Homo sapiens: one gene and its partners. The protein of the gene in region 1 purifies or fractionates together with the protein of each later gene. This does not show direct contact. Each region holds a gene or a part of one and is shown in the gene's direction. Other genes may lie near its edges. The genes, in order: TLR1, PLXNB2, COLEC12 and STK11IP.

Region 1 (7,439 bases):
CCTTGGGGGTTAGGATTTCAACATAAGAATTTCACAGGGCACAAACATTCAAGCTATAACATCCATTGAAATATTGCTCCTTGTGTGAGTAGCTCTTTAAGGAAGCTGGAGAGGAAGAATTGGGAAATTTCCGGGTCTTTCAGCCAAATACAGTTAATGTCATAAAAACACCACCTTGACTTTTAACATGAACATTAATGTCTGCATCATCTTCCTTGCTCAGGGTCTTCATGAACACTAATAGGGGTACCAGGCCCTCTTCCTCGTTAGAAGAAATCAGGATAACAAAGGCATATTGGGCACCCCTACAAAAGGGTAAGTCCAAGGAAGGCTCCAAAACCCAGATAAGTTTGCACATCTAAATTGGGGAACTTTTGTAACCGAGGGTTGTTTGTAGCAGCTAAATTATTTAGGTTCTCTGTGCTCATTGAGATATGGGAGGGGATATGTGAAGAGGAATTTGGTGCTTTGCTGATACTAATGCCCTGCTTGTCTAATGGTTCTAGGGGATTTTGAATAAGTTCCTTGTGAGAACTGGGTAGCTGTGTAATCACGGCTGAAAGGGTCTCTGGAGGTGAGGACTGCACACTCTAGAGTTCATCCCAACACAGCTCCCTCTGTTCTCATACGCCACTGGAATGCTGACCACAAAATGGTGTCTTAGCTAGAGCAGTTTGAATACTGGTACAATAGGCATAACCTAGAACAGTGCCTACCACTGCATGGAGAATAAATACATATTTGATGAATGAATGAAAAAAGTATTCTGAATAAGAGAGAGGAGGAAACAACTCCCTTTCTCAAAACCTCCCAGTGTTCTCCACCCTCTCATCATTTTTGGAATAGAATCCCAACTCCTTGCAATGATCAACAAAGCCTGAGTGATCTTGGCCCTAACTCCTCTCATCTTCCCTAACTCCTTACTAACATTGACCTTCCCGTTCCTTCTCAGACAAGCCAAGCTCAATTCCATCTCAGGTCCTTTATACTTGCCTTTTCTTTTGCCAGAAATGCTGTAGGTTACCCAGATCTTCCCATAGGTTACTCATTCACTTCATTTTGATTTCTACTCTAGTGTCATCATCTCAAAAAGGCCTTCTCTAACTAATCACTCAAAAATAGCCACCCCCAAGCACTGTCTCATACCTACAATTTACCCTGCTTTATTTTTCTCTACAGAACTTATCACTACAGGAACTTGAGTTTAGTCATTCATTTATTTTCTGTCTCCCCACTAGATAAAAACTCCTTGAGAATTCGGACTTTATCTTGTTCACTGCTCTATCTCCAGTTCTTAAAACATGGCCAGTAGGTGATCAATAAATACTGGTTGAATAAATAAATGGATGAATAAATGGATCTTCTGAGAGGCCTTTTATCAGGATCTAATTACCTTTTGAGTAAGACCAAAGTTAGACCCAAACCGTGTATAGGTCATAAAGGGTAATAGAAGAGCAGTCCCAATACCACCATTAGGAACACCTCTTGAGAAAGTCATGGGGAGATGTACGTCAAAGAGTGAAAGTACACCAGTTGAGTCTTAGCTGGAGTTCTAAATAATTTTGGGAAGCTTGGGGCCAGAAAACTTTCTATGAACCCACCTGTATTAGTTTCCTGAGGCTGCTGTAACAGATGATCATAAACGTGGTGGCTTTGCCCTCAACGTTCTGGAGAGCAGAAGTCGAAACTCAAGGTGTCAGCAGGGCCACCATCACTCCAGAGCCTCCTCTAGCTTCTGGCGCCTGTTGATGTTCCTTGCCTTGTAGCTGCTGCACTCCAGTCTCTGCCTCCACTGTCACAAGGCCTTCTCCTCTGTGTCTCAATTGCCTCTTCTCTTGTCTCTTTGTCAAATATCCCTCTGCCTTTCTCTTAAAAAAGCACTTGTCATTGGATTTATGGACCACCTGGATAATTTGGGATGATCTCCTCATCTCAAGATCCTTAACTTTATTATCTCTGCAAAGACCCCTTTTCTAAGGAAGGTAACATTCATGGTTTCTGGGGATTAGGACATGGTTAAGATGTAGACATATCTTTTGGTGAGCCACCATTCAACCTATTACACCATCCATATTAAAACTTATTTGATTAGAGCTGGCATCATTATTTACCAATATATATACTTCTCTAGTTTTAGGCCATGTAACCCAAAAGAATGTAGCCTCCACTTTATAAGTCTGTAACAAAAAAAAGTTTAATGTCAGCCATGACTAATTTCGTGTATTTTAAAAATGTATGTAATGTATTTCATCATTTCATTATTTTTTTTCTAGAATCTGTATCTGTATCAAGATGATCTGAAGAACAGCTTCTACCTTTAGGAATGTCTAGTGTTCCAAAATGACTAGCATCTTCCATTTTGCCATTATCTTCATGTTAATACTTCAGATCAGAATACAATTATCTGAAGAAAGTGAATTTTTAGTTGATAGGTCAAAAAACGGTCTCATCCACGTTCCTAAAGACCTATCCCAGAAAACAACAATCTTAAATATATCGCAAAATTATATATCTGAGCTTTGGACTTCTGACATCTTATCACTGTCAAAACTGAGGATTTTGATAATTTCTCATAATAGAATCCAGTATCTTGATATCAGTGTTTTCAAATTCAACCAGGAATTGGAATACTTGGATTTGTCCCACAACAAGTTGGTGAAGATTTCTTGCCACCCTACTGTGAACCTCAAGCACTTGGACCTGTCATTTAATGCATTTGATGCCCTGCCTATATGCAAAGAGTTTGGCAATATGTCTCAACTAAAATTTCTGGGGTTGAGCACCACACACTTAGAAAAATCTAGTGTGCTGCCAATTGCTCATTTGAATATCAGCAAGGTCTTGCTGGTCTTAGGAGAGACTTATGGGGAAAAAGAAGACCCTGAGGGCCTTCAAGACTTTAACACTGAGAGTCTGCACATTGTGTTCCCCACAAACAAAGAATTCCATTTTATTTTGGATGTGTCAGTCAAGACTGTAGCAAATCTGGAACTATCTAATATCAAATGTGTGCTAGAAGATAACAAATGTTCTTACTTCCTAAGTATTCTGGCGAAACTTCAAACAAATCCAAAGTTATCAAATCTTACCTTAAACAACATTGAAACAACTTGGAATTCTTTCATTAGGATCCTCCAGCTGGTTTGGCATACAACTGTATGGTATTTCTCAATTTCAAACGTGAAGCTACAGGGTCAGCTGGACTTCAGAGATTTTGATTATTCTGGCACTTCCTTGAAGGCCTTGTCTATACACCAAGTTGTCAGCGATGTGTTCGGTTTTCCGCAAAGTTATATCTATGAAATCTTTTCGAATATGAACATCAAAAATTTCACAGTGTCTGGTACACGCATGGTCCACATGCTTTGCCCATCCAAAATTAGCCCGTTCCTGCATTTGGATTTTTCCAATAATCTCTTAACAGACACGGTTTTTGAAAATTGTGGGCACCTTACTGAGTTGGAGACACTTATTTTACAAATGAATCAATTAAAAGAACTTTCAAAAATAGCTGAAATGACTACACAGATGAAGTCTCTGCAACAATTGGATATTAGCCAGAATTCTGTAAGCTATGATGAAAAGAAAGGAGACTGTTCTTGGACTAAAAGTTTATTAAGTTTAAATATGTCTTCAAATATACTTACTGACACTATTTTCAGATGTTTACCTCCCAGGATCAAGGTACTTGATCTTCACAGCAATAAAATAAAGAGCATTCCTAAACAAGTCGTAAAACTGGAAGCTTTGCAAGAACTCAATGTTGCTTTCAATTCTTTAACTGACCTTCCTGGATGTGGCAGCTTTAGCAGCCTTTCTGTATTGATCATTGATCACAATTCAGTTTCCCACCCATCGGCTGATTTCTTCCAGAGCTGCCAGAAGATGAGGTCAATAAAAGCAGGGGACAATCCATTCCAATGTACCTGTGAGCTAGGAGAATTTGTCAAAAATATAGACCAAGTATCAAGTGAAGTGTTAGAGGGCTGGCCTGATTCTTATAAGTGTGACTACCCGGAAAGTTATAGAGGAACCCTACTAAAGGACTTTCACATGTCTGAATTATCCTGCAACATAACTCTGCTGATCGTCACCATCGTTGCCACCATGCTGGTGTTGGCTGTGACTGTGACCTCCCTCTGCAGCTACTTGGATCTGCCCTGGTATCTCAGGATGGTGTGCCAGTGGACCCAGACCCGGCGCAGGGCCAGGAACATACCCTTAGAAGAACTCCAAAGAAATCTCCAGTTTCATGCATTTATTTCATATAGTGGGCACGATTCTTTCTGGGTGAAGAATGAATTATTGCCAAACCTAGAGAAAGAAGGTATGCAGATTTGCCTTCATGAGAGAAACTTTGTTCCTGGCAAGAGCATTGTGGAAAATATCATCACCTGCATTGAGAAGAGTTACAAGTCCATCTTTGTTTTGTCTCCCAACTTTGTCCAGAGTGAATGGTGCCATTATGAACTCTACTTTGCCCATCACAATCTCTTTCATGAAGGATCTAATAGCTTAATCCTGATCTTGCTGGAACCCATTCCGCAGTACTCCATTCCTAGCAGTTATCACAAGCTCAAAAGTCTCATGGCCAGGAGGACTTATTTGGAATGGCCCAAGGAAAAGAGCAAACGTGGCCTTTTTTGGGCTAACTTAAGGGCAGCCATTAATATTAAGCTGACAGAGCAAGCAAAGAAATAGATTACACATCAAGTGAAAAATATTCCTCCTGTTGATATTGCTGCTTTTGGAAGTTCCAACAATGACTTTATTTTGCATCAGCATAGATGTAAACACAATTGTGAGTGTATGATGTAGGTAAAAATATATACCTTCGGGTCGCAGTTCACCATTTATATGTGGTATTAAAAATTAATGAAATGATATAACTTTGATTTAAACAGTTCTGACACATAAGGGATCCACTTGTTTCTTTGCTATAACTGAGTTCTGAATTTATCATGAAGTCAAGGGAAGCACCTGTTTTTCTTCAGTGATGTGTGTTCTAGTGTATCATGGCCAATATTGGAAAATGCCGTGACTTTTGTGAATATAGCTGGGTTTGTATAGCAGATTTCTACAGCTTTTGATGCTTTCCTCATATCCATGGTGCATTCAACTCAACTTATTGATGGCTGCTCGTTGATAAAGCTGGAGACACTATGCCTGAAGGTTCCTCCCCAACCCCCCACCATCATGCCCACACAAAGGGCAGTTCAGAAGTGCTGGAAATTGTCCTTGGAAACAGCCCTCAACCAATGTCAGAAAGAGCTGGTGGATAAATATCCCAACTTTCTCACTCATTTTTTGAGATAAATCAAAAAATGGGGTATACTTTACACTCTCCCTGAGTTCCCCAGTAGGATAAAATTCTGGTTGTCCACAGTAGAAATGGCTTGATTAAGTATTCTCGACTGGCTTCCTTCCCATTTTTTTCTCACTTACTTATTCCTCCATGTGTATTCCATGGGATCACCTCTGTGATAAACTACTTGCCACTGAATATTTGTCTCAGGGGCTGCTTATGAGGGAGCCCAGACCAAGAAAGTGTTCCACCTCAGTCCAAATGAAAATTCTGAGTCTAGTTTTCCATGACTGGAGATCTCGCTGAGATTCTGGTTGTATGAACTAACATGCACAAGAGCCTTTGCTCTTTTGATTAGAAGGAAGAATATAGTTGATATACGGTGCTTCTATATATAGCATCTGTCTCTTTGGGGAACTATTAAAGTAGAGCATGAGCAGATGGGGCAGTGTAAGGAATGGATATATCTGATGCTTTTCATACCCATCAAACATCCTGTCAGTCTACATTTTTACTCCAGCAGCCAGCTCTGGGCAGGTGTAGTCTTGACAAAAACCTTGTCATAACTACACCATGTATCTTTCACTTTATGCCCCATGACTTCACTGATACCACTGCGTGGGATGCTTGTAGAAGCCTGTTCTACCATTCTGATACATGCACAAACCTGGAAGCACAAGGGATAACACTACGGGATGGGAAGCATTATATACATGCTCCTTTCTTCTATTCTTGGGTTAAAAAATGAGGTGTAATTGATACCTTTTCTCAGACAATCCCTAGTGGCACTGAGGTTTACTTACCCACAGGGTAACCAGCTCAGTAACTTGGTTTTGCATTGACTTTCCATTCTTCCTTGGTCACTCTTCTCATTCGGGTCACTCTTGAGTCCTGAGATCGCTGCTCCAAACAAGCGACCTTTCCTTAACTCAAGGAGTCTAGAAAAAATAAATAAAATAAAAAGCAACAAAAACCAAAAAGCCTACAAATGACCAGCCCACAAAGCTCTCATCTCAGTCTCTACTTTTTTGAGTGGGAAGGAACCCAACTAACACATACATATCTATTAGCTTCTTGGCCTAAAGAACTTACAGTCAATCAGAGAACACTAAACATATCCAAATAACTAAAATAAAAATCAATGAAACAAAGCTATAAAATGGAAGTTCAGAGGTTGCTTAAATTGAGTGAAAAAAAATCTTAGAAATGATGTGTCTTTTTTTTTTTTTTTCCATTAGGTCTTGAAGGAAGACTTTAACTTTGGATTTTTCAATGTGTAATGATGAAGAATGGAAAGGCCATTCTAAACAGAAAGATAAAGAGAGCAAAGGCAGGTATACCCAGGCCTATTCTTGGACTGGTATCCCAGTTTGACTGGACCGTGAGGTTCATGAAAAACAACAGTAGGATAGGAGTGTGGAAAGTTATATTAAGACTATATTGTCAAGGATCTTGAAAGTCAAACCACGGAGTTAGAGCTTGAAAATAGAGGAAAGTCATTATTTAAACTTCTTTGAAGCATAATAGTGGGAGGCAAATTCAAACCATGAAATGTATGCTAAAAATAGGAGAACTATTGTTCTGTAATGGAATTGCAAAAATTGTAAGAACTGGATTTTCCCATTTTCTCTAGGATGATTGCACTTTCTGTATTGAACTTCAAGATTTCATAACCAAGTTTCAACTACTCAGCAAGCAGTTATGTATTCGTTTTCAAGGTCTATTTTAACAAAGTCTATTTTAACAAGCTGGGTGGCCTAAACAACTGAAATTTATTCCCATAGTTCTGGAGGCTGAAAGTCCAAAATCAAGGTGTTGGCAGGGTTGGCTGCTTTTGAGAGGAGAGAGGGAAGGATCCATTTCTACTGTGGACAACCCAGTCTCTTTTCTTAACTCATAGATGGCTGTCTTTTCTCTGTCTCTTCACATCGTCTTCCCTCTATGCCTGTCTGTCTCTGTGTCCAAAATTCTTTTTTTTTTTTAATAAGGACACCAATTACATTGGATTAGGGCCCACTCTAATGACCTCATTTTAACTAAGTACATCTCCCAACAACCTTATTTCCAAGGAAGGGGTAATTCTGAGGTTCTGGGGTTCAGGACTTCAACATATGAATTTTCGGAGACACAATTC
Region 2 (8,566 bases), on another chromosome or scaffold:
GCCTCCCAACGTGCTAGGATTACAGGCATGAGCCACCGCGCCCGGCCGGGACTTTTCTTTTTCTTCTGAGGCCCCCATTCAGTCCGAGGAATGTAGCCTTCATTCAGCGCAACGTACTGTTTGTGTTCTCATTGGTGCTCTCAGACCTCCAGCCAGGTGGTGGAGAGCGAGCACTGCCAGCCACTTCAGTGCAGGATGTGACTGAGCCACAAGGACAGCGGGGTCAGGTGTCCGGGCGCCAGGTAGTTCTCAGAACTTGGTACATGTCAACTTGTCCAGCCCAACTGCAGCCCAGGACAGCCTGTCCCTGTTCCCATTCTACAGACAAGACGCGGAGGCAGCCGGGAGGGTGACCAAGGGGAGCTGTTAAGCCCCAGATGTCTGGTGCAGGGTCCAAGGATGTGACCACATGAAACAGAACACATAGAGGCCGAGGTGGCAAACCTGTTCTGTGGCAGGGACAAGCCGGGGACCCGAGGGTGAGAAAGGTCCTGGCCCCAAATGCAGCTTGGGCCTCCTGACTGTAGCACAGGGGGACCAGCCTCCCCACTGAGGGCTTGGTCTCTAGAGGGTCTGCAGAGATGCTGGCACCTCTTGTGTGGGCAGCTTGAATGCTGACCTCCATAAGATGGGGCCTGGGGGGCCAGTACAGGCCCTGCCATCAGCTGCCCTCCACCAGGGCCCTCTGCAAAAGCCTTATGCTGGTGACCAGCCCCCTGAGGACCACCACTTCAAGGTGTCGGGGCAGCTTGGGAAGACAACCCACCTCTCTCACAACTGTGACCCCACTTTGGGGAGCGCACCCCAAGGACCGTGGCAGCATGTGCTTCCCCACAGCACAGTCTCGCCTCACTTGGCTTTCTGAGGGCTGCCGCACAGCACAGAGGGCTGCAGACCCACATGGCTGCAGGGGAGGGGCTTCAGGCTGGTCTCTGAGGAGCCCCCAGGGACCCTGGCCACTGTGTATCCAGAAATGCACAAGCAGATTTCCCTGGAGGGCTCTGGTGAGGCCACATAGTGGCGTGTGAAGGGGGAACTTGAGGGGGGAACCGGGCTGGGTGGCCAGCATTGCCCTGGGCAGAAGCTAAGGCTAAGGTGGGGGGTAGTGTCCCAGCCCCTCTTCCTCAGGGCCTGTCCCCACCTGTGCAGAAGAGGCCTGGGGTGGAATGTGGCCTGGGGTGGATGGGTGGGGGCTGGGCGTGGAGACCTGCCAGCTCCATCTGTCCGGATGCCTCTTGTGGCCCCCCCAGTGTCAGGGCCGCTCTGAGTTGGCTGAGCCTCTGTCCAGGGCTAGGCCATGGCCCTCCCCGCCCCACGCACTCCAGGCCAGGGGCAGTCAGTGAAGAGGCAGGAAGGTCCAGACAGCTCTACCCCTGGCCAGAGTGCCAGCCCCCGCAGGCAAGAGGGCTTGCTGGGCAGAACTTAGTTGGCGAGGGTGAGGACTGCTGTGGTCACAGGCCTCCCGAAGGACAGGGACCACAGAACCTAGAGGGTGGGAAGGGCTGGGAGCAGGTCTGGAGTGGGGCTCGGGGCTGAGGGTGCACACAGGGGGCCTGCTCAGGGACAGGAAGGACAGCTGCTCACCCTCAAGCTTCCTGCTGGCTATTTAAAGACTCCCTTTTAGTCTAGAACAGTGGCCTTCCCACAGTTTTGGTATTAAAATGTCCTTTTGTGACTGGACCTTGTCTTTTCCTTTTTTGATAAAAAGTTGGCAACCTTGTCAGAACCTGGTAATTTTGGGGTCCTCTGCAGTGAAGGGTAGGGTTGCCGTGATGTGGATTGTGGTTCAAGGCCCAAGGGAAGATTTTGGACAGGAACAAGGCCTGGCTGCTTGAGGGTGGGAGAAGGCAGAGACTGAAAGAACTAAGTCAGGCTGGGGGAGTTTGTCAGGATGTGGCGGGGCGGATCCCGGGTGGGGGAAGCAGAGGAGGAGGGGATGCCTGGCTGGGGACAGGAGGAAGCTGACCAGCTGCAAGGACGGGGCAGGTCTGGGTGGAAGGCGGGCCCCAGGGAGGGGTGACCCAGGGTGGGGGCAAGAGCTTGGGGAATGCTTCTGTCTCCTGCTCAGCACATCCAGTTCCGGGAGGGCAGTGGAGGCGTGCTCCAAGGTCTGGCCCTGCAGACGGTTCACCACCTCTTCTCAAGCCCAGGGGACACTAGGAGCACTGAGGCCAGGACTTGGGACCTGGGATGCCAGAAGTGGGGCCAGCTCTGTCCCAGAAACCAGAACCCCCAGAAAGAGGTCTCGGCCCGCCCACCTCCTGGCCCTGAAGGACCAGGTGGGGTCCCGGGTGCAGCATCCCAAGGTGCTGCTGGAGGCCAGGGATGTGCTGGGAGGCCATCTCCAGGTCCCAGTTTACCCTGGGAGGTTGAGGGCCTGAGACCCCTGGGAAAGGGCCAAAGCCCAGCAGCCCCCACCCCTGAAGGCCGCAGGGGAGCGACTGGTATGCTTCCAGTCTGGGAGTGAGAGTCTGGTGCCCACACATCTCAAGACTGGCAGGGACCCTCACGTTCCTCTGGCCAGGCGAGAGTGCACTCATAATGCCCTCCCCTGGTACCAAGCCATGGCCTCCCCTCAGACCTGCGGGGTTCCTGTGGGGGTGCTCAGGCCATGGGGCCTCTGTGGGCGCTCGTGCTTCCTGGACGGCGGCATGGTGGGCAGGGTGCTGCCCTGGCTGAACCTGGGTCTGAACTGGGGTGCCTGAACCTACCAGACAATGCTGTGGCCGCTGGGCAGGGGAGAAGTGGGGGGCGCGGGGAGCGCAGGCCCAGCCCCTCCCCTCCCGTCCCCTCCCCTCCTCTCCGGTTCTCTTCTGCCCTCTCCTCCCCGCTCCTGCTCCCCCTCCCCTCCCCCTCCCCCTCTTCCCCCTCCCCCTCTCCCCCTCCCCCTCTTCCCCCTCCCCCTCTCCCCCCTCCCCCTCTCCCCCCTCCCCCTCCCCCTCCTTCTCCCCCTCCGCTTTCCCTCTCCCTCTCCCCCCTTCTCCTGTTCTCCCCGCCCTCCCCTCCTCTCCCTCGTCGGGGGCGGGGCCGGCAGCTCCCGCGCGCTCCGGCCCCTCCTCGGCCACACAAAGGCCCCGTCTCCATGGCAGCAGCGCGGGCCAGAGCGCAGCGCCGAGCGCGGCCCGGGCGCCATCGAGCCTTGGCGGCGGACGTGCAGGTACCGAGCTCGGGGGACTGGGCTGCGGGGGACGTCTCGCTGGGCGTGGGGGGGGCTTCGCCGTCAGCGCCGCTCCGCCCGGGCCTGCCGCGCTGGGGCCCGGGGACCTGCGGCGGCTGCGGCTCCGCGGAGGGCTCCCGGGGCCTGGGCCCCGTCCGTCGGTCCATCCGGCGAGGCCCGGGCCGCTGCCGCCCCACTCCCTTCCCGGTGTTGACTCGGGGGACGGGCCCGGCGGCGGGGGCTGCGCGTCCCTCCGGAGCCGCGTCGGATCCCTCCTCCGCGCCTGCCTCTCACTCTTCAGCCGCCGAGCTCCGTGCGCCGAGCGGAGATGGTCTCGCGGTGCGGGCGCTCCGGGCCGGCCCCAGGCTCAGCGGCACAGGAGCCTGGATTTGCCCGAGCTCCCGGGGGCCGTCCCCGCACCCCCTGGGGCCTGCTTGGCGCGGGGGGACCAGGGCGGAGAGCACCCGCACCTGGCGAGACCCCACTGCCTGGGCCTCCTCGCGGTTCCCAGAGTGGCGTCTGGGTGGACACCCCGAGACACAGAAAGTCTCAGAAGCGGGGGCGCGAGCCCTGCCTGTCCCCTGCTGACCCTGCCCCTCCGCACCCTGCTCCTGCAGGAAGCCCCTGCCCTGCCAGCGCCCCTGGTCGGGCTATTCGGCAGATCTGGGGAGCCCGCCTCCCCCTGTCATCTGGGGGTCTCAGAGCCCGGACGCCCTGGGGCTTCCTGCCAGGCCCTTGATTTCTCTTCCCGAAGCTCCCTGGGAAAGGAAGAAAGGGGTCCGTCTGCCCACTGTGGGCTGTGGCAGAGTCAGGACAGGGGGTGAGGGTGAGGGTGAGGGTGAGGGTGAGGGTGAGGGTGAGGGTGAGGGTGGGCCCCAAACCCGGCAGATCCCGGCGGCCTGGAGGGCTCCCTGTGCCCCACCTTCCCTGGACCCCCCCGCCCTCCCCACTTAATGTCTGACTTCGGCCCTTGCTTGGAGGTTCGGCGCAGCCTGTGAGGCTTTAAAGTTGAGCTTCCTCAGGAGCCCTTTGCGGGTGGGAGAGCGAGGCTGCCGGGAAGTGGGGGCTCTCAGCCTGCCCCATGCCCAGATGACCCTGGCACGGAACAGCTGAACAGCTGGTGGGAGGAGCCCTCCCTTTCCTGTCCAGAGGTGAGGGTCTCCCGGAGGGCAGGGCCAGCAGGCATAGGTTTGTGGCGAGTCAGCTTTTTGCATGTTGCATAGAAATCCCCAGAGCCGACTGAGAAGCAAGCAGGTGGGCCTGGCACATCTGAGTCCTCCCACGGTACCTATGGGGGGCCCACCTCTGTCCCGGGGGGTCTGGGAGGCCTGAGGTCTGGCCAGGGGTTCCTTGCCCCAGTAGAGGAGGGAAGTTACTGAGAAAAACAAGGGTTTGGAATGTGAGTCCCCCTCCCCCACCGGCTGCCTGCCAAGAAAGAATTATTTTGGATCATCCAGCCGTGTCCAGTCACCCGAAGCGGGAGGCTGCAGCGTGGGAGAAGGATCCACTTCCGGGACGTGGGTTGAGGGCCCCAGGAGGAGGACGGGCAAGTCCGGGCAGCTCTGCCACTTTCTACTGCAGCTGCCCAGACTGGGCGGGGAGAAGATGCGTCACCTTTGGGTTGGAGAAAGCCCCAAGGTTGGCCCCAGCAGGCCCTGCTGAGCCTGCAGTGGGCCCAAGCCCCTCTGGGGGAGACCATGGAACAGGAGGAGCTCTGGGCCCACCCAGGGACCCCCTCGCCCCACCCAGGGACCCCCTCGCCCCGAGAAGTCTCAATGGTGGTCTGAAGAGCCTCTGAGGTACCCTCCAGGCCCAAGTTCAGGGACACACCCTGTGCCAGTGACCTGTGCGTGCCAGGGAGGAGCAGGCAGGAGCGAGGCTAGGCTGCTAGGGAGGGCACTGGGGTTTCCCTCAGGGGGCCCTCCTGCCCCAACGGACTCCCTATTCAGCTCCTGACTAACGGACCAGCCTCCCTCCAAGCCCCTCCGACAGCCAGTCCTTGCCTACGACCCCCTCTGGATATGGCGCCTGTGAGCCCATCCTGCAGGTGGGGAGACTGAGGCCAGAGATAGGTCTATGTGAGGAGTCATCTGCGATGCTGTGTGGCCAGGGCTGTGGCTACCTGGCGCTCTGGGTCCATGCTGTGTGTGCGCCCGGGGTGTGTGCCCGGCGGCCTGCATGGGGACCACATCGGGGAGGAGGAGCCGGCAGCTGGCCCCAAGTGCAGAAAGCCCAGAGCCTTGGACCCGGCCCAGGGAAGTGGAGCAGAAGAGATTGGATTGGAAGGTGGTGGGGAGGGCCCATATGGCACAGTCCTCCTCCCATCCCAGGACGTCGTCCGTGCTCACCGTGTCCTGCCCCCTGCCTCACCCTGTGCCAGCCACAGCTGATGGTCCCCCTGGGACGCGGGCGTGGGCAGGGGTGCACTGGCTGGGAGAGGCTGTGTCTTCCGGCCCCTCATATTGTGCCTTCTCTGAGCTAGGCAGGCACTTGGATGCCAGGCCTCTGCCACGAGGGCTGCCTTCCCCTGAGCTGGGAGTTCTCACTCAGCTCATGCCTCCGTCCCTCTGGCTGCAGCCTGGCCGCCCTCCTTGGAAGTTGGCGGGGAACCTCTTGTGCCCAGAGCCTGCCTTGGACACGGTTTGGGGATGAGGTGGTGAGCTGCTCAGAATTCACCCAGTGGCCAGCAAGTGGCCCCCCAGCCTTGACCTCCCTTCTCTGAGGCAGATCCAGGTTCTCTGGGGGTGGGAGATTCAGTAGGGCTGGGACTGGCCACAGCCCCTCCCTCCCTCAGGGGTAGTGGCTGTTTGTGTTTGGGGTGGGGCTGTGGGTGGGGTGGGGCTGGGTCTCTGACTAATTACACGATGGGGAGGGTGGGTCAGAGCCTTGGCTGGTGGGGGGTGCTCAGGCTCTGGGGCCCCGGGGAGGCAGCTGCCCTAGCTTCCCTCTTTCTGGTCGAGGTTCCTCCACCTTCTTCCTTTCCGTGGTTTCACATCCCTTGACACAGGGCCTGCTTCTTCCCATACCCCTGGATTGTAAGGACCCCTGCCTTTCTCTGCCTACCAGGGAAGGACCCTGCACTGTTCTGGGCTCCCCCAGCCACAGGTGTGGCCTCAAGCCAGGCCCTGACACAGTGGCCCTCCTGGCTCAGAAGCCTTCTCTCTGAAGACCAAGCGTGTGAAGGGATTGGCTGGGCCCCTCCCGTCTGGCCCTGAACACTGGCACCCCGCACCCCCCCAGTGGATCCACCCTGCCCTGTGAGATTCATGAACCTGTGACAGTGACTGGCCCCAGGCCCAGTGGTGCCGGGGATGGTGGGACAGGCTGCCCCTGGTGGTACTGCAGGTTTGCCCCACCCCCGGGGATGTCTGTCTGGGGAGGAGCCTGGGGCTGGCCTGGCTGTGGAGCTGGGGGTTCTGTTTCGCACAGTCCCGCCTCTGCAGCCCAGATCCTGGAGCCCTTCACACCCAGAGGCCAGCCCACACCGTGGCCCGCTATGGTTGGTGGCCTTCCCTGGGGGTAGCCCCTAAGGCCACACCTGAGCTGCCTCATGTCCCAGGCTAGGTGAGGGAGGAGACTGCCCTGGGCTGGGATCAGGGCGCCTGGGGGCAGGTCCAGCTCTCTTCCTCAGCCCCCTAAGGTCTCCTGGCTTCTGAAAGCCAATAGTTCCTCATTCCAGTGCCAGCTGAGTCCCGGCCCAGGCCTGGGGCAGGAGAGGGAGGTGCTGCCCCAGTTCAGCCACCAGCTCTGCCAGCAGGGTCCCAGCAGCAGCAGCATCAGAGGCAGGGACTGGGCTCCTGGGGGTAGGGCCCCGGCCCCTCTGGCACAGCTGGTCAGCAGCTTCCATGGGGGGCCCTGTGTGGAGACACAGTGTCCAGCACCGATTTCTGGGCCTGATGCTGCCCCAGCTGAGTCCCGCAGCAAGCGCAAGAGAGAGAAGTGCTTGGTGTCCACCTCTGAGAAGGCCTCCTGTGTGAACACGGCCCCCTGAGGGGCCAGGCAAGGGCGTCTGCTCCTGTGGCTGGGACGGTTCCTGCCCACGAGCCTTGTGTAGGGCTGCGGCTCTCTTCCCAGGTGACCTTCTGTTGTGGTCTGGGGCCCCCGAGCCAGCATGCCACCTGCTCAGAGACAGATTGGGCCCCCTGTCAGATTGGCGTCTGGGGGCACTGTCTGCTCCTTCCAGGCAGCTTTGAGGACTTCTCAGAGGAGGAACCCCCCTGCCCTGCTGGTCCAAAGTGGGGTGCTGAAGGCCGAGGCAGTTTCCAGGGGGCTATGCCTCAGGCTGCGTGGGTGGCTGTGGTAGGAGCGTGCTCTGTGATTGTCACTGCATTTGCCTGGGGTCCATGCTCTGTCCTCAGCTGGGGTCTGGCTTTGAACCTAGGTGAGTTCTGGGGCTCTGAGGACAGGCCAGAAGCAGGAGTGTGGGGGGGTCTCTCCTGGGGGAAGCAAGGGAGGCCTGGGCCTGTGTGACTCAGACGTGGTAGGGTGGCATGGGAGCCACAGCTTGGGGGGATGGCGGGGGGCTTGAGGGTAATCCAAGTATTTCAGGGACCCAGCCATGGAGAGTGGGGTTTGAGGACCAGCAGGAGGTGAGGACTCTGTGGATCCCAGCCCTGTCAGGTGTGTTTTCAGAGCTGGGGCCTGCTTTGGAGGAGATGGAGGGCACAGAACACTGCTGAGCCCAGGCCCTGTGCCCAGCCTTGCTCCAGCCTTACCGGCTTGACACCAGGGCCTCCCTCCCACCAGCGAGGGGGAGAAGCTATTTTAAGTGGAGCCAGCAGTTGACAGGGGCAAGGGGCAGGTGGTGGGAGGGAGGTGCTCCAGCATGGCCCCCCCCACTCCCTCTCAGCCTCAGAGATTGGCCAGGGGAGCTGAGGGGCTTGGCCTCCCCACTCCTATGTTGGCACCGAGCCTGATCTGGTGACCACCCTGAGGGACTTCAGGAGAAAAGGATGTTAGGGAGGAGGGCGTGAAGGTGGGGCGCCCCAGGCAGGCCGCCCAGGCCCAGCAAAGCTCGCTGGAGGGTCCCCCAGTTCCACATCTAGACCTGGGGCCCAGTGGCTCTCGACCAGGCCCTGTGGGGTTTGAAGTCCTCAGCTCCACCATGAGCAGAGCAAGCCTCCGCGTGGAGCAAGGGGCTGGACCTGGCCTCCAGGGGCACCCACCTCCCCACACAGCTCCAGCCACGGGCATCACCTCCCACTCACTGTCCTGCCCCCACTCTGAGATGGGCATTTCCTCACTGGGAAATCCCTGTCCCTCTGGCCTCCCAAAGCCCTGAGTGTTTGCCCCTGTGGGGCCCAGCCCACACCCTGGGCTGCCTCACCCTTGGCCTGGACCCAGGTCCTGCCCAACACCCTGTGCCTCACCAGCCCCCAGCTCATCCTGGGCAGACGCAGCCCCTCTCCC
Region 3 (7,920 bases), on another chromosome or scaffold:
ACAAAAACGTGTGAGCACCAGCTAGGAGCTCTGTGCTCTGTCCTCAGGGCCGAGACCATGGCCTGTGTCTCTTGAATCCTCAATGTCTAGCACTATGCCACCTACATGGCAGATACTTGGTAAATGTCTGGTGATGTTAACTTTAAAGAGAATATAAACAGAAATAATTCTTCCCCTTAAGGGATTCTTTATTGGAGGAAACCAGATTTAGGAAAAAGAAATACCAAAAGAGAGGTGATACGGAGTCATAGAAAGAGCATGGATTTTGGAGTTAAACCTTCCAGCCTGGTATCCCACATAGTCACTGACAAGCTGTGTGACTTTTTAGCAAGTTACTGAACATCTGTGAGCCTCAATCTCTTCATCTACAAAACAGCAGTTGGAAGGATTAACTGCAGTGATGGTGTAGTGCATCCGGCAAAGAGCAGGCACTCGATAAATAGAGGCTATTATTATTATCATTCAAATAAAGATCGAGTTGGTGTGCAGTGGAATCAACTTGTAGGTGTGGCTGAGTACAATGGGGTAGTGAGGTGTGGAGCGGACCTTCAAGGAGAAGTGGAGTCAAGACGAGGGAAGAAGAAGTTAGTGGCCCAGGCCAAGGGATGATACCGAAGTGCTTTTATAAAAAAGGTTTTATTGTCAGAGTATCCTAGAGAATTATACTTTGGATACTTGAAGAGGGACAGATCTTCAGGTATAATACCTGAAACACCAATATTCTGTAGAAAAATTCTACCTTAAGAAACAATTCCCAATACAGGAGAGCCTATGAGAAACCAGACTGCTGGTCACCCTTCTGTGTATCCTGCTCATTTTTCTCATGTGAGAATGGTCTGCAAACTGAGGTCTATGTCTATAGACTGGGAATTTCCAGGGTAATACAGGATGGCTCTGCGACTGTATTCCTGATTGAGAATTGGTGCTAATAAATTCAGAATAAAAGTCAATGAAAGTGCTGTGTGCTGTTACAGCAAGGGTAAGTTCTGGATCTCCACCAGTCTGGTATTTTTATGCAGTAGCAGGTTCCAGCATTGCAATCCTAACATTTCCAGCTTTATACCAGATCCTATTGTTAAACAAAGACACACACCCCCCAGTGCATGTAAACTGTTCATTAGCACTTGTGGGCAGGGAAAATAGTTTCCTTTTGCTGCACAGAAGAAAACGTCGACAGATTTTTTTTGTTCTTTTTTTTAATGAATGTATTTATCCCTTTTGTATTTATTCTACACAAACCTGAGTTATCTGTCCATGACAGTTCTCTGTTTTTCAAAACTAAAATGGAAGAAAAAGTAGAAAGGGTAGAAAATGACTGACTGTCAGCATATTTGAAGGTTTCTTTGGCTTCCAGGAAAGAAGGGCAGGACTTGAGATCCTGCATGTGGTTTGAGGACAGACCGAGGCATATGTTTTGATTTGAGGATCAAAACTGAACCTAAACCTGTAAACATTCTGTATTTTAGTTCTTAAAAATTAGCTTTGCTAAAAACACATATGCAACATTTTATTCTTGAGAGTTTCCAGGGATTTAGGAGTATGTGTACCTATGAAGCAACCCTAAGGTACAGATTATTAGAACTGCATCTCTCTGTCTATGTAGTAATTTTAAAAATAATAATTACTCAGCGAAATGTCATACTCACTGCCAATGCTCAGGCTTCCCTGGGTTGGTTGGGAAACACGTGTTTGCTTGCCCTGTAGCTCAGCCGGCAGATTGCTACTTATTTAAATAAATCCCTCATTCCTGTAATCCTAGCACTTTGGGAGGCCAAGGTGGGCAGATCATCTGAGGTCAGGAGTTCGAGACCAGCCTGGCCAACATAGAGAAACCCCATCTCTACTAAAAATACAAAAATTGACGAGTTAATGGGTGCAGCACACGAACATGGCACATGTATACGTATGTAACAAACCTGCACGTTGTGCACATGTACCCTAAAACTTAAAGTATAATAAAAATACAAAAATTAGCCGGGCGTGGTAACAGGCTCCTGTAATCCCAGCTACTCGGGAGGCTGAAGCAGGAGAATCACTTGAACCTGGGAGGCGGAGGTTGCAGTCAGCTAAGATCATTCCATTGTACTCCAACCTGGGCAACAAGAGTGAAACTCCGTCTAATAAAAAATTAAATAAATAAATGACATAATAAATATATATTCATTGACTACCTACAAAGTGCCACACACTGAGCTAAGAGGAAGAGATGGAATTGAATGTAAATTTTCCTGCCCTAAAGGATATAATAGTAGATAAGTCATGACAGCACAGTGCAGTGAGTCCCATAATAGAGAAAGGACTACTTGCCAGGGGAATTCTGCAAGGTGCACCTCGGCAAAGGGTTCCCACAGGAAGTGACAAGCAGAGTCTTGAAGAGCAAATAGGACTTAGCTCAGTAAAAAAAAAAAACAGGGAAGAACATTCTAGGTAGAGAGAACACATGGAAAGGCTCGTGTGAGAGAGTGTTTGTCGCAGTGCACACATTTCATTATGACCAGACGGTAGAAGCTTGAGGGAAAACAGTGAGCTTCTCCAGGGACAATTCCAGGATCCAAGGAGCCAGTTCACTTTGGGTCACACAAACACATGGGAACTTACTACTTCTTCCTGAGAGGAGCCAGGAGAATCTCACACAGTCATGCGTGGGTAGAACATGTGATGAATACAATAAATTAGATCCGTTGGCTCATAATTGATATATAAAGCATGTTCTCATTTTTTGAAGTCTTTTTTTTTTTTTTTTTTGAGACAGAGTCTCGCTCTGTTGCCCAGGCTGGAGTGCAATGGCGTGATCTCGGCTCACTGCAACCTCCACTTCCCAGGTTCAAGCAATTCTCCTGGTTCCACCTCCCAGGTTCAAGCAATTCTCCTGCCTCAGCCTCCTAAGTAGCTGAGGTTACAGGCGTGTACCACCACAACCGGCTAATTTTTGTATTTTTAGTAGAGATGGGGTTTCACCATGTTGGCCAGGCTGGTCTTGAACTCCTGAGCTCAAATGATCCACCCACCCCAGCCTCCCAAAGTGTTGGAATTACGGGCGTGAGCCACCATGCCCGGTCTGAAGTCTTTTTTTTTAAGCTATTGATACTAAGAAGGACAGTCAGACTTGATCCCAAGCTGCTAGAAGCTGTATCTCACATAAATCACTTTTGGAGAAACATCCTCTTATTTAACATTTTAGAAACGTGTACTTGAATTCATAACTGTAGAGAATTACTGCCTTCTGAAAATGAATAAGAACTGAAGCTTTTATTTAGTGTGGCTGTATTAGTCCGTTCCCATGCTGCTGATAAAGACATACCCGAGACTGGGAAGAACAAGAGGTTTAACTGGAATTACAGTTCCACATGGCTGGGGAGGCCTCAGAATCATGGTGGGAGGCAAAAGGCACTTCTTACACGGCAGCAGCAAGAGAAAGTGAGAAAGATGAAAAAGTGGAAACCCATCAGATCTCGTGAGACTTATTCACTACCATGAGAACAGTATGGGGGAAACCGCCCCCATGATTCAAATTATCTCCCACTGGGTCCTTCCCACAACACATGTAAATTCTGGGAGATATAATTCAAGATGAGATTTGGGCGAGAATACAGCCAAACTGTATCATTCCACCCCTGGCCCCTGCCAAATCTCATGTCCTCACGTTTCAAAACAAATCATGCCTTCCCAACAGTCCCACAAAGTTTTAACTCATTTCAGCATTAACCCTAAAGTCTGCAGTCCAAAGTCCCATCTGAGACAAGGCAAGTCCCTTCCGCCTATGAGCCTGTAAAATCAAAAGCAAGCTAGTTACTTCCTAGATACAATGAGGGTTACAGGTATTGGGTAAATATAGCCTTTCCAAATGGGAGAAATTGGCCAAAACAGAGGGGTTACAGGCCCCATGCAAGTTCAAAGTCAGCAGGGCAGTCAAATTTTAAAGCTCCACAATTATCTCCTTTGACTCCAGGTCGCACATCCCGGTCATGCTGACGCAAGAGGTGGGTTCCCATGGTCTTGGGCAGCTCCACCCCTGTGGCTTTGCAGGGTACAGCCTCTCTCCCTGCTGCTTTCATGGCTGGTGTTGAGCATCTGTGGCTTTTCCAGGTGAACGGTGCAAACTGTCAGTGGATCTACCCTTCTGGGGTCTGGAGGACGGTGGCCCTCTTCTCACAGCTCCACTAGGCAGTGCCCCAGTAGGGACTCTGTGTGGGGGCTCCGACACCACATTTCCCTTCCACACTGCCCTAGCAGAGGTTCTTCATGCACATCCCACCCGTGCAGCAAACCTCTCCCTGGGTATCCAAGAGTTCCCATACATCCTCTGAAATCCAGGCGGAGGTTCCCAAACCTCAATTATTGATTTCTGTGCACTCACAGGCTCAACAACACATGAAAGCTGCCAAGGCTTGAGACTTGCACCCTCTGAAGCCACGGCCCCAGCTCCACATTGGCCCCTTTCAGCCATGGCTGGAGTGGCTGGGAAGCAGGGCACCAAGTCCCTAGGCTGCACACAGCATGGGGACCCTGGGCCTGGCCCACGAAACCATTTTCTCCTGGGCCTCCAGGCCAGTGATGGAAAGGGCTGCCAGGAAGGCTCTGACATGCCCTGAAGACATTTTCCCCATTGTCTTGGGGGTTAACATTTGGGACGGCAAGAGAAAATTAGAAAGATGCAAAAGTGGAAACCCCTGATAAGACCATCAGATCTTGTGAGACTTATTCACTACCACCAGAACAGTATAGGGGAAACCACCCCCATTATTCAAATTATCTCCCACCAAGTCCCTCCCACAACACATGGGAATTAGGGGAGTATAATTCAAGGTGAGATTTGGGTGGGGACACAGCCAAACCCTATCAGTGGCATTACTTTCCCTATCATATGCAATCAAGAAAATACTACCAAAAAATACTTCTTGGCAAATCATTGTTTGGAAACACCACTCAGGCATCTACTTGAGAACTGACAAACTACAGAATCAGTTGTCACTAACAAAAAGCAGATTTTCAGGGCCTTGTGGTGGAACTCATAACAGAAAGTGGCAGACACTCTTGACTTTGCAACCTTTCTATGCCGATTTTGTGTATAGAATTGAGCTGGGTTTTCCTTGCCAATGGAATCCTCTTCTAGGTAAATGAGTCCCACCTGCCAAGAATGTTAGGGAAGCTGATGAGTGACAACATTTTGTAAATTATCACAGTGTGCCTTGCCTTCATCTATGGAAATTAATATAGGAAATAGCAGATTAGGGACTTCTAAAATGCATGAAAATTTTTAAATTAGTTCCAAATGATTTCTGAAACATCCAAGGCATTACAGAATCATAAGAATAGTTAAGAACATACAATTCTCAACTAAGTAAATTGTACCCCTGGGTTTTGTGACAAGTAAGTTATTTTTCCAAAAAGATGGCTTTTCTTTCCTATATTTGATTTCAGTTACACTGTTTTCGTTCAATCTGTTTCCTTTGTTCCATAATGAAATGATCTCTTGTTTTGAAACTGAAAAATAAAATATGAGCAGATATGTATACTAATGCATCATTTTCCAAATCTTAGTTGTAGAGAAAATGGACAATGTCACAGGTGGCATGGAAACATCTCGCCAAACCTATGATGACAAGCTCACAGCAGTGGAAAGTGACCTGAAAAAATTAGGTAATCTGTGACAAGACTAAACCATGAAATCCCCTGACTCTACATAAATGACCACAGCTTCTTAGAATGATGTTGCTATAAACTCCCCATTCACCCGGAAGGACATTCAATTTTTGTGTTGCATGTTGAGTCTCCCCTCATGATTTAATTCAAATGCTTAAATTTTAAAGTTAAGGGTCAGTTTTGGAATTAAGTCCTGCCAAGAAAACTATTATGTGCCAAATAATATCTGAAGATCAATCCTGACTGAAAAAAAACACAAATACCCTTTATTAAAAACTGTCACATAAATAGGAATTTACTGAGCATTTTTGAAATACTTTAAACTACATAGAATTGTAGAAATTAAGTTATAAAGTGAAAGATCCTAGCATATTCTATTCCTTGATTTTTGCTTTCATTAAAAAAAAATTTGGGAAATTTAAAAGGTTAGTTTCTTCTTGACAGCCTGCCCACTGCCCTAAAATCTAGTAAATTCCCCCTCCCTCTTTGAGAAAAATGTTCAGCCAAGTTTGTCATTCCTAGTTCTGAGCTTCTTTTCCGATTCCCCAGGACCCAGTTTTAATAGATATGTACATTTTACTAATGCAGAGCTGTCCGCTTATACTGCCAATTTTGCATCTAAAATACAGTGCATACCGATTAAGTGTGTTCGGGATCTTTGGCCTTGCCTGAACACTTCTCCATACCACCAATATAAGTCACAGATATTTCTTATTCCAGGTGACCAAACTGGGAAGAAAGCTATCAGCACCAACTCAGAACTCTCCACCTTCAGATCAGACATTCTAGATCTCCGTCAGCAACTTCGTGAGATTACAGAAAAAACCAGCAAGAACAAGGATACGCTGGAGAAGTTACAGGCGAGCGGGGATGCTCTGGTGGACAGGCAGAGTCAATTGAAAGAAACTTTGGAGAATAACTCTTTCCTCATCACCACTGTAAACAAAACCCTCCAGGCGTATAATGGCTATGTCACGAATCTGCAGCAAGATACCAGCGTGCTCCAGGGCAATCTGCAGAACCAAATGTATTCTCATAATGTGGTCATCATGAACCTCAACAACCTGAACCTGACCCAGGTGCAGCAGAGGAACCTCATCACGAATCTGCAGCGGTCTGTGGATGACACAAGCCAGGCTATCCAGCGAATCAAGAACGACTTTCAAAATCTGCAGCAGGTTTTTCTTCAAGCCAAGAAGGACACGGATTGGCTGAAGGAGAAAGTGCAGAGCTTGCAGACGCTGGCTGCCAACAACTCTGCGTTGGCCAAAGCCAACAACGACACCCTGGAGGATATGAACAGCCAGCTCAACTCATTCACAGGTCAGATGGAGAACATCACCACTATCTCTCAAGCCAACGAGCAGAACCTGAAAGACCTGCAGGACTTACACAAAGATGCAGAGAATAGAACAGCCATCAAGTTCAACCAACTGGAGGAACGCTTCCAGCTCTTTGAGACGGATATTGTGAACATCATTAGCAATATCAGTTACACAGCCCACCACCTGCGGACGCTGACCAGCAATCTAAATGAAGTCAGGACCACTTGCACAGATACCCTTACCAAACACACAGATGATCTGACCTCCTTGAATAATACCCTGGCCAACATCCGTTTGGATTCTGTTTCTCTCAGGATGCAACAAGATTTGATGAGGTCGAGGTTAGACACTGAAGTAGCCAACTTATCAGTGATTATGGAAGAAATGAAGCTAGTAGACTCCAAGCATGGTCAGCTCATCAAGAATTTTACAATACTACAAGGTAAGTCAAAATTCTGAATTTGTATTTGTATTAGTTGTTTATTGCTGCATAACAAGTTACTCTAAAACTTGGCAATTTAAAACAATAAATATTCATCATCTCATAGTTTTTGTGGACCAGGAATTCAAGAGCAGCTTAGCTAGATGGTCCTGACTCACTGTTTTTCATGAGGTTGTGTCAAGATCTCAGCCAGAGCTGCAGTCATCTGAAGGCTTGACTGTGGCTGGAGGGTCTGCTACTTAAGTGGCCTGTTCACATAGCTCTTGGCAGGAGGCCTCAGTTCCTTGCTGTGTGAAATTGCTTGAGTGTCCTCACAATGTGGCAGCTGGCTGCTGCCAGAACAAGGAATTCAAGAGAGAGAACAAGAAGGAAGATACCATGACATACTAGCCTCAGAAGCCACACACCATCACATCCACTTCATTCTGTTTCTTAGAAATAAGTCACTAAGTCCAGCCCACACTCAATGCAAGTGGAATTAAGTTCCACATCTTGAAAAGAAGTGTAACT
Region 4 (7,920 bases), on another chromosome or scaffold:
CACCCGCCTTGGCCTCCCAAAGTGCTGGGATTACAGGCGTGAGCCACCACGCCTGCCCTTTGTGTTTTTTTTTTTGTTTTTGTTTTTTTTTTTTTTTTTTTTTGAGATGGAGTCTACCTCTGTCACCCAGGCTGGAGTGCAATGGCTCAATTTCGGCTCACTGCAACCTCTGCCTCCTGGCTTCCAGCTGTTCTCTGGCCTCAGCCCCTCGAGTAGCTGGGATTACAGGCGCATGTCGCAATGCCCAGCTGAGAATATTTGTATTTTTAGTAGAGACGAGGTTAGAGTCGTAGAATAATTTTTTGTGTTTTTAGTGGAGACGGGGTTTCACCATGTTGGCCAGGTTGGTCCTGAACTCCTGACCTCAAGTGCCTTGCTCCCAAAGTGCTGGGATTACAGGCCTGAGCCACGGCAACCAGCTCAGTGTCCTGACTTTGATATTGTACTATAGCTATATAAAATGTAACCATTAGGGAAAACTGGGTAAAGGATACAGGGGACCTTTCTGTATTATTTCTGCAGCATTCTTTGACTCCATACTTATTATATTTTTTAAGCCAAAAAAGCATTCCTTCATGCCTAGCTTGTAGCTGCACTTTTTTAGGTGCAGTGATGAATACCAGAGTGATCAAAAGATGCCCTCAAGGATGAAAGTCTCATTAGAGAGAGCAGTTTTAACAGACAGCAATAACAATGCCTTAGTGCTATAATGAATAGTTATTCTATGACATACTTTTTAGTATTGTTTGAAAGTTTCTACAGATGTGCTTTGCAATCAGAAAAAGAAAGAAAGATAAAACTTCCAATTAACTTTTGTGTAATAATGAGTGACTGCAATATGAAAATTCAGCAGTATTACTTCTTGAGGCGGCTTCCTGGAGGAGGCTGGTCTCAAGCTGGGCGGTGGAAGGGGGTGTCTCATAACAAGAGAGAACTGTGAACCAAGCTGGCTGTATTTCCAGCACTGTCAGTAGATGAGGCTCTTTTGAGCAGAAGGTGAAAGAAAATTTGGAAGAGTTGGTTGGAGTTGTGTAGCCAAGCAGTCTCATCAGGCTGAATGAAATGTTAGGACTTTTTTTGAAGATGAGGGGAGCCATTGAATGCTTTTGAGCTGAGAAGGAGATAGAAAATTTGATCCTGCAATAGAAGATCTACAATATGGATTGGAGTGGGTATATTTTGGCATCATAGAGCCTTAGAATAAAGAGAAAAATCTTTTCACTGTGTCTTCCCTCCTGTTTGCCCCTTTTTCTGCAGGGGATGTGGTCCTGTCTGGCTGTAGCACCCTGAGCCTGCTGACTCCCACACTGCAACAGCTGAACCACGTATTTGAGCTGCACCTGGGGCCATGGGGCCCTGGCCAGACAGGCTTTGTGGCTCTGCCCTCCCATCCTGCCGACTCCCCTGTTATTCTTCAGCTTCAGTTTCTCTTCGATGTGCTGCAGAAAACACTTTCACTCAAGGTTCTGGGTGTGGGGAAGAGGCAGGATGTGCAAGGAGCCCAAGAGAATGATGGAAGTTGGGGATAGGGTAGGGGTGCAGAAGTCTGCAGTGCCAGGATCCAGAGGGTGTCAGAGGTACCAGTGGTTGTGCTAAGGAAGGAATGTTGAGGGCAGGAAGATCTGCTGTGCCTCAGTAAATTGAGTTTTTTTTTTTTTTTCAGCTGGTCCATGTTGCTGGTCCTGGCCCCACAGGGCCCATCAAGATTTTCCCCTTCAAATCCCTTCGGCACCTGGAGGTATGGGGACACGGGGGGATGTTGGTGCACAGCACCCAACTTGAGGCAGCCCCTTGGGGATGGGAAAGAGAAGAGCCTCTTTGGTGAGGAGGCCAGGCCTGAGTATACCCATTGCTCTGCAGTCATGTGATATCCACTGTCTTTCCATTTACTGCTTCCCTAAATCATAGCTGGGCTTTGTGGTCTTCTCCCTCCTCCCAACTAGGGGATGGGGATGAGGTCTTTGTCTTCTGTGGGGTTCTGCCTTCCTCCCTCCTCTTTCCTTGTCCCAGCTCCGAGGTGTTCCCCTCCACTGTCTGCATGGCCTCCGAGGCATCTACTCCCAGCTGGAGACCCTGATTTGCAGCAGGAGCCTCCAGGCATTAGAGGTAAGGAGAGTGAGGGGTGAGCTCAGACACCTCAACTTGAGAGATGTAGAAGACCAAGCTCTGATGTTCTCCCCTCTCTGCAGCTCTCCCTGCCTCCTGCTTCCCTCTAGACAGTGTCCTCACTCCCTCTCTGTGTTCCCGCAGCACTCTGTAACTGCCTGTATATTTATAGTCGTACCTACCATATTATATTACATATTCTAGTGTCTACCTTCCCACTGTCCCTACAGTGAGTTCTTGGGTCAGGGACCTGGGCTTTAAGCCTGTATCTTCAGATGGAGTTCAGTGTATAAAAAATGAATGAGTGACTGGGTGGTAGAGCTTGGCCTTGGCATAGGGAGGAAGGGGAGGGTGGGGTAATGAAGCACCCATCTGTCTGCTCAGGAGCTCCTCTCAGCCTGCGGCGGCGACTTCTGCTCTGCCCTCCCTTGGCTGGCTCTGCTTTCTGCCAACTTCAGCTACAATGCACTGACCGCCTTAGACAGCTCCCTGGTGAGTGCCTCAGAGGGAAGAGGGTTTCGAGGAAGGGCAAGGCCAGGCCTTTGGGGAGGAGGGCCAGCTGGTTGACCAGATAGTATTGTAGTGAACATCGATTCTCTGCCTCCTCCCCGTCTCTCTCAGCGCCTCTTGTCAGCTCTGCGTTTCTTGAACCTAAGCCACAATCAAGTCCAGGACTGTCAGGGATTCCTGATGGTGAGTATGGGCAGTTTGGCAGCTGGCACACCATGGGTCTTTGATTGCTCTGCTCTCACTCTCTCTCCTTGACCAGCTTTTACTCCCACCTTGCTCTTGCCATGAGGGTGGAGCTGCATTCTGGGAGATAGCACTGCTTAGACACTAGCATCAGACAAACCAGAGTTCATATCTCAACTTCTAATACCTGTGCAACTTTGAGCAAGTTAGTTACCTCTTGGTTTCTTTACCTGTAAAGTAGAAATCACAAGAGTACCTGGTTTTTTTTTTTTTTTTTTTTTTTGAGATGGAGTCTCGCTCTGTCACCCAGGCTGGAGTGCAGTGGCGCAATCTCAGCTCACTGCAACCTCTGCCTCCCAGGTTCAAGCAATTCTCCTGCTTCAGCCTCCCAAGTAGCTGGGATTACAGGCACGTGTCAACACACCTGGCTAATTTTTGTATTTTTAGTAGAGATGGGGTTTCACCATGTTGGTCAGGCTGGTCTTGAACTGCTGACCTCAAGCAATTCACCTGCCTTGGCCTCCCAAAATGCTGGGATTACAGGCATGAGCCACCACGCCCGGCTGAATACCTGCTTTTATAGTATTAAAATGATTGTGAAGAAGTACCCAATGTTGCTTAGTCTAGTGCCTAGCTCAGAAACTGGTAGCTTTTGTGATTATGATGAAGAACCTTTCTTCTGGGTCCTCCCATCCACCTGTCAGAGATAAAGCCGAACTAGTTAAAGTGGTAAGGACAGATTTTTTTTTTCTTTTTTTTTTTGAGGCAGAGTCTTGCTCTGTCACCCAGGCTAGAGTGCAGTGGTGTGATCTTGGCTCACTGCAAACTCAACCTCCTGGGTTCAAGCAGTTCTCCTGCCTCAGTCTCCCGAGTAGCTGGGATTACAGGTGCCCGCCACCATGCCCAGCTAATTTTTGTATTTTTTAGTAGAGATGGGGTTTCACCATCTTAGCCAGGCTGGTCTTGAACTCCTGACCTCATGATCCGCCCACCTCAGCCTCCCAAAATGCTGGGATTACAGGTGTGAGCCACCGTGCCCGACCAAGTAAGGACAGATTTTTTATCAGTGATAAACTATTGCAGCGGGGAAGAGGGTGCAACCTGAACTGAACGCCACTTCAATTTGTGCAGAGGTGGCTGGGCATTTTAAAAGGAGAGTGAGGGAATAGGAAGGGGAACTGTGAGGGCTTGAGCAGAGTAAGGGAAGTGGAAATGTACGAAAAGCAGAAGTGGAGGTTGATTCACATGAAGCCCTTCTGGGTTTGCTAAAAGTTAGGCTCCTACCTTCCCACAGAGACTGGGAGATGGGAGCCCTGTCATCAGGTGTTGGCTAGAACAAATGGGAAATTCTTTTGGCAGCCTTGACTTTTCCCAGGCAGGAGCTTAAGGGGGCTAGAGTCACCATTCTAGGGATGCATCCTTGAGATATTAGAACTTTGCTGTTTTTGTTCAGGTTTTTTACTGTGGGGGTTGGAGGAGTCAACAAAAATAATTTGTGTTGAATTTTGTTGAACTTGTGCTGAACAAGTCTGCAGTTCTTAACAGGCCAAAGTTGAGGCCTAGTCAAAAAGAAGGCCCAGAGGAGCCTGAGTAGGGTTTGATCAAGGTGAGAACCTCCTCTAATTCAGGGAAAGAAGAGACACTCCTCTTTCCCCTGAACAATATAAATCCTTTTCTTCCTTGATCACCTTTTGTTCACTAAAAACCAACTGAGCCATTTATTGGGACTTGGTAGTGGATGAATTTTGCTGGATGGTGAGAGTGACCAGGCATTTAATGGGGGACATTTCTATGGAAACAAAAAGGGAAACAAAGATGAATGGTTGGAGCAGACTATAAATCCATTTTCTGAGTCCAGAGGGCAGCCAGTTGAGATTTCTAGGTGTTGAGCTCTATGTTTCTTTAGATGGTGGAATGAGGATAGCAGTGGCAACCGATGGATTTCTTCGTTTGTAGTTTGAATGTTTGTGGTGATAGCATAGACAGTGTTGCAGTCACGGTTATTTCCCTGAACAGAGCCTGGAAGATACAGAAGTGTCAGTGGACTTTTTTCCTTTTTTTTTTTTTAATGAGACAGAGTTTCGCTCTTGTTGCCCAGGCTGGAGTGCAATGGCACGATCTTGGCTCACCGTAACCTCTGCCTCCCGGGTTCAAGCGATTCTCCTGCCTCAGCCTCCCAAGTAGCTGGGATTACAAGTGTGTGCCACCACGCCCAGCTAATTTTTGTATTTTTAGTAGAGACGGGGTTTCACAATGTTGGCCAGGTGAGTCTCGAACTCCTGGCCTCAAGTGATCCCCCCTCTTTGGCCTCCCAGAGTGCTGGGATTACAGGCATGAGCCACTGCACCTGGCCGGCTGGGCATTTTAAAAGAGGGCGGCGGGGAGTGGGCAGGGGAATGGTAGGGCCTTGAGCAGAGCTGGGGGAGTGGAAATCAGGTTGGTCCACATGAAACCCATCTGAGTTTGCTAACTAACTGGCACTTACCAAAATAAGGCCCTTACCCTTTCACAGAGACTGGGAGACGGGGCCCTATCTTCAGGAGTTGGCTGAAACAAATGGGAAATTCTTTTGGCAGCTTTGACTTTTCCCAGGCAGGAATTTAAGGGGCTTGGAGTTGCCATGCTCAGGGTGTGGCCTTGAACTGTTAGGAACAGTGCTGGTGTTGTTCAAGTCTTTTAACGTGGGAGTAGGGGTGGATGAAATCATTTGTGCTGAGTGTGTGCAGTTTTATATAGGCCAAGGTTGAGGCCTAGTCCAGAAGAGGTCTCAGAGGACCCTGGCTAGAGTTTGGTCAACGAGATAATCTTTTTCTCCCCTGTACCCCTGCCAGGATTTGTGTGAGCTCCACCATCTGGACATCTCCTATAATCGCCTGCATTTGGTGCCAAGAATGGGACCCTCAGGGGCTGCTCTGGGGGTCCTGATACTGCGAGGCAATGAGCTTCGGAGCCTGCATGGTGAGTGGGGGTGTGTGATGGGGCAAGCATGGAGGGGAAGGGGGAGAGTGAGGCTGGGGCTGGCCTGGGGACCATGTGCCTCTAGAGCCTTGAGAGGGCTTATGGGGAGTGCAGGGGTGCTCTGGCCGGTCTTTCTGCTGCAACCTCCCCCAGTGCATGCACCACACTCACTTGCGTGTACTCATCCACATGCTCTTCCTTCCTTCTTGCGTCCACCCCAGGCCTAGAGCAGCTGAGGAATCTGCGGCACCTGGATTTGGCATACAACCTGCTGGAAGGACACCGGGAGCTGTCACCACTGTGGCTGCTGGCTGAGCTCCGCAAGGTGAGATGGGAATGCATCAGGGGCCTGGGAACCACCCTTGCACGTACCCCCCCATGCTGGTTTGGTCAGTGCCTTCTTCACACAGGGAGGGCCAGGGCCCCAGGCCCTCCTCATTCTCCCCTTCCTGCCCCTCAGCTCTACCTGGAGGGGAACCCTCTTTGGTTCCACCCTGAGCACCGAGCAGCCACTGCCCAGTACTTGTCACCCCGGGCCAGGGATGCTGCTACTGGCGTGAGTGATCGTCCTGTGTCCACTCTTCTTCCCCTTTCCTGCCCAGTCCTCCCCCACCTTGCACCCTCTTGCCATCCCTGGGTGAGGGGCCAAGGACCTGGACCCTGCTTACTGTGTTCTTAATACCTGGAGCTCAGCAGGATGGGCCTACCACATACTCCCTCCCCCTTTTTGTCTTTGCTCAGTTCCTTCTCGATGGCAAGGTCTTGTCACTGACAGATTTTCAGGTCGGTGTGGTTGGGGGGCGAGGACTGTTGGGGGAAGACACGAAGGGAGGGCGCTGGGGAGAGAACAGAGGGCTGGCTGGTGACAGGGTCTTCCTGGTCAGTGGAAAGTAGGGTCCCGCCTTTTGGCTGGCTTGGGCAAGGCAGAGGTGCTCCCAGGCTCCAACCTCTCTCTCCTTCCTGTCGTCACGTGCCAGACTCACACATCCTTGGGGCTCAGCCCCATGGGCCCACCTTTGCCCTGGCCAGTGGGGAGTACTCCTGAAACCTCAGGTGGCCCTGACCTGAGTGACAGCCTCTCCTCAGGGGGTGTTGTGACCCAGCCCCTGCTTCATAAGGTTAAGGTAAGCAGCGTCCTCCGCTGCCTTGTGCCTGCGGTTGGGTGTCTCTCCGGGGACTCTGGGCTACAGTGGGCAGGGAATGGTAGGAACTGTGCTTGCACGTGGTCAAGGTTTCTTTGATAGGTTGGATGGCCAGCCGTGGATGGCAGGGCTGGAGGCTTGGCTTTCACAGAACTTCTTCCCTCCACCAACCTCAGAGCCGAGTCCGTGTGAGGCGGGCAAGCATCTCTGAACCCAGTGATACGGACCCGGAGCCCCGAACTCTGAACCCCTCTCCGGCTGGTAAGTCAGCTTCATCCCACTAACCTCTCTCGTCCCCAGCGAGCTCACTCTAATTTTTAAGTTACAGTGAAGATCTGCTGGAAGAAATGTTATTTTTTGTTGGGGTAGAGTATTATAGAGGGCTTCTTAGTCTTTTTTCTTTTCTTTTAGTTTAGGGAAAGGAGAAGACTGCTTCTGGGAGCATTTTGAAAACTTTTCGAGGAACATTAATTTTGTGGGGTGTCAAGAGATCATGTAGGCCAGGTGCAGTGGCTTACATCTGTAATCCCAGCACTTTGGGAGGCTGAGGTGGGAGGATTGCCTGAGCCCAGGAGTTTGAGACCAGCCTGGGCAACATAGAGAGATGTCCATTTCTACAAAAAAATTTTTAAATTAGCCTGACGTGGTGGTGTGCGCCTGTAGTCCTAGCTACTTGGGAGGCTGAGGCAGGAGGATCGCCAGAGCCTGATAGTTCAAGGTTGCAGTGAGCTATGATCATGCCACTGCACTCTAACCTGGTGACAGAGTAAGACCTTATCTCTTAAAAAAAAAAGTAAAAAACCCCAAAACAAAAGAAAGTGTATATGTATATATATAAAATAATAGGATTGTGGCCAGAGAAGTTTGAGAAATGTGAGGTTGAAGAGAAATAGGTGTGTCAGCTGCCGGCCGTCTCGGGCCCTTCAGGATGCTATCATGTATGCTGAGTCTCTGGAAGTAGCATAGGATGCGCAGCTTGGATTGCATGTGACCACAGGGTTCCATAGGACACGCTTTAGTA

Evidence for each region.
Region 2: the proteins of TLR1 (region 1) and PLXNB2 purify together in Homo sapiens (affinity purification with mass spectrometry, with the first as the bait; one large-scale study listed by BioGRID). This does not show direct contact.
Region 3: the proteins of TLR1 (region 1) and COLEC12 purify together in Homo sapiens (affinity purification with mass spectrometry; one large-scale study listed by BioGRID and IntAct). This does not show direct contact.
Region 4: the proteins of TLR1 (region 1) and STK11IP purify together in Homo sapiens (affinity purification with mass spectrometry; one large-scale study listed by BioGRID and IntAct). This does not show direct contact.

Annotation. Positions count from the first base shown.
Region 1 is NC_000004.12:38,793,733-38,801,171, reverse strand, and holds the end of TLR1 (toll-like receptor 1 precursor), read left to right. Parts: intron 1-223; 5' UTR 224-315; intron 316-2,273; 5' UTR 2,274-2,340; coding exon 2,341-4,701; 3' UTR 4,702-4,917; downstream 4,918-7,439. UniProt on the Homo sapiens protein: Participates in the innate immune response to microbial agents. Specifically recognizes diacylated and triacylated lipopeptides. Cooperates with TLR2 to mediate the innate immune response to bacterial lipoproteins or lipopeptides.
Region 2 is NC_000022.11:50,302,144-50,310,709, reverse strand, and holds the start of PLXNB2 (plexin-B2 isoform 3 precursor), read left to right. Parts: upstream 1-3,063; 5' UTR 3,064-3,157; intron 3,158-6,888; exon of another isoform or gene 6,889-7,231; intron 7,232-8,566.
Region 3 is NC_000018.10:345,785-353,704, reverse strand, and holds part of COLEC12 (collectin-12), read left to right. Parts: intron 1-5,541; coding exon 5,542-5,640; intron 5,641-6,363; coding exon 6,364-7,410; intron 7,411-7,920. UniProt on the Homo sapiens protein: Scavenger receptor that displays several functions associated with host defense. Promotes binding and phagocytosis of Gram-positive, Gram-negative bacteria and yeast.
Region 4 is NC_000002.12:219,599,978-219,607,897, forward strand, and holds part of STK11IP (serine/threonine-protein kinase 11-interacting protein), read left to right. Parts: intron 1-1,257; coding exon 1,258-1,463; intron 1,464-1,663; coding exon 1,664-1,738; intron 1,739-2,010; coding exon 2,011-2,106; intron 2,107-2,490; coding exon 2,491-2,598; intron 2,599-2,727; coding exon 2,728-2,799; intron 2,800-5,630; coding exon 5,631-5,757; intron 5,758-5,978; coding exon 5,979-6,082; intron 6,083-6,217; coding exon 6,218-6,313; intron 6,314-6,498; coding exon 6,499-6,540; intron 6,541-6,734; coding exon 6,735-6,881; intron 6,882-7,001; exon of another isoform or gene 7,002-7,006; coding exon of another isoform or gene 7,007-7,075; coding exon 7,076-7,160; intron 7,161-7,920. UniProt on the Homo sapiens protein: May regulate STK11/LKB1 function by controlling its subcellular localization.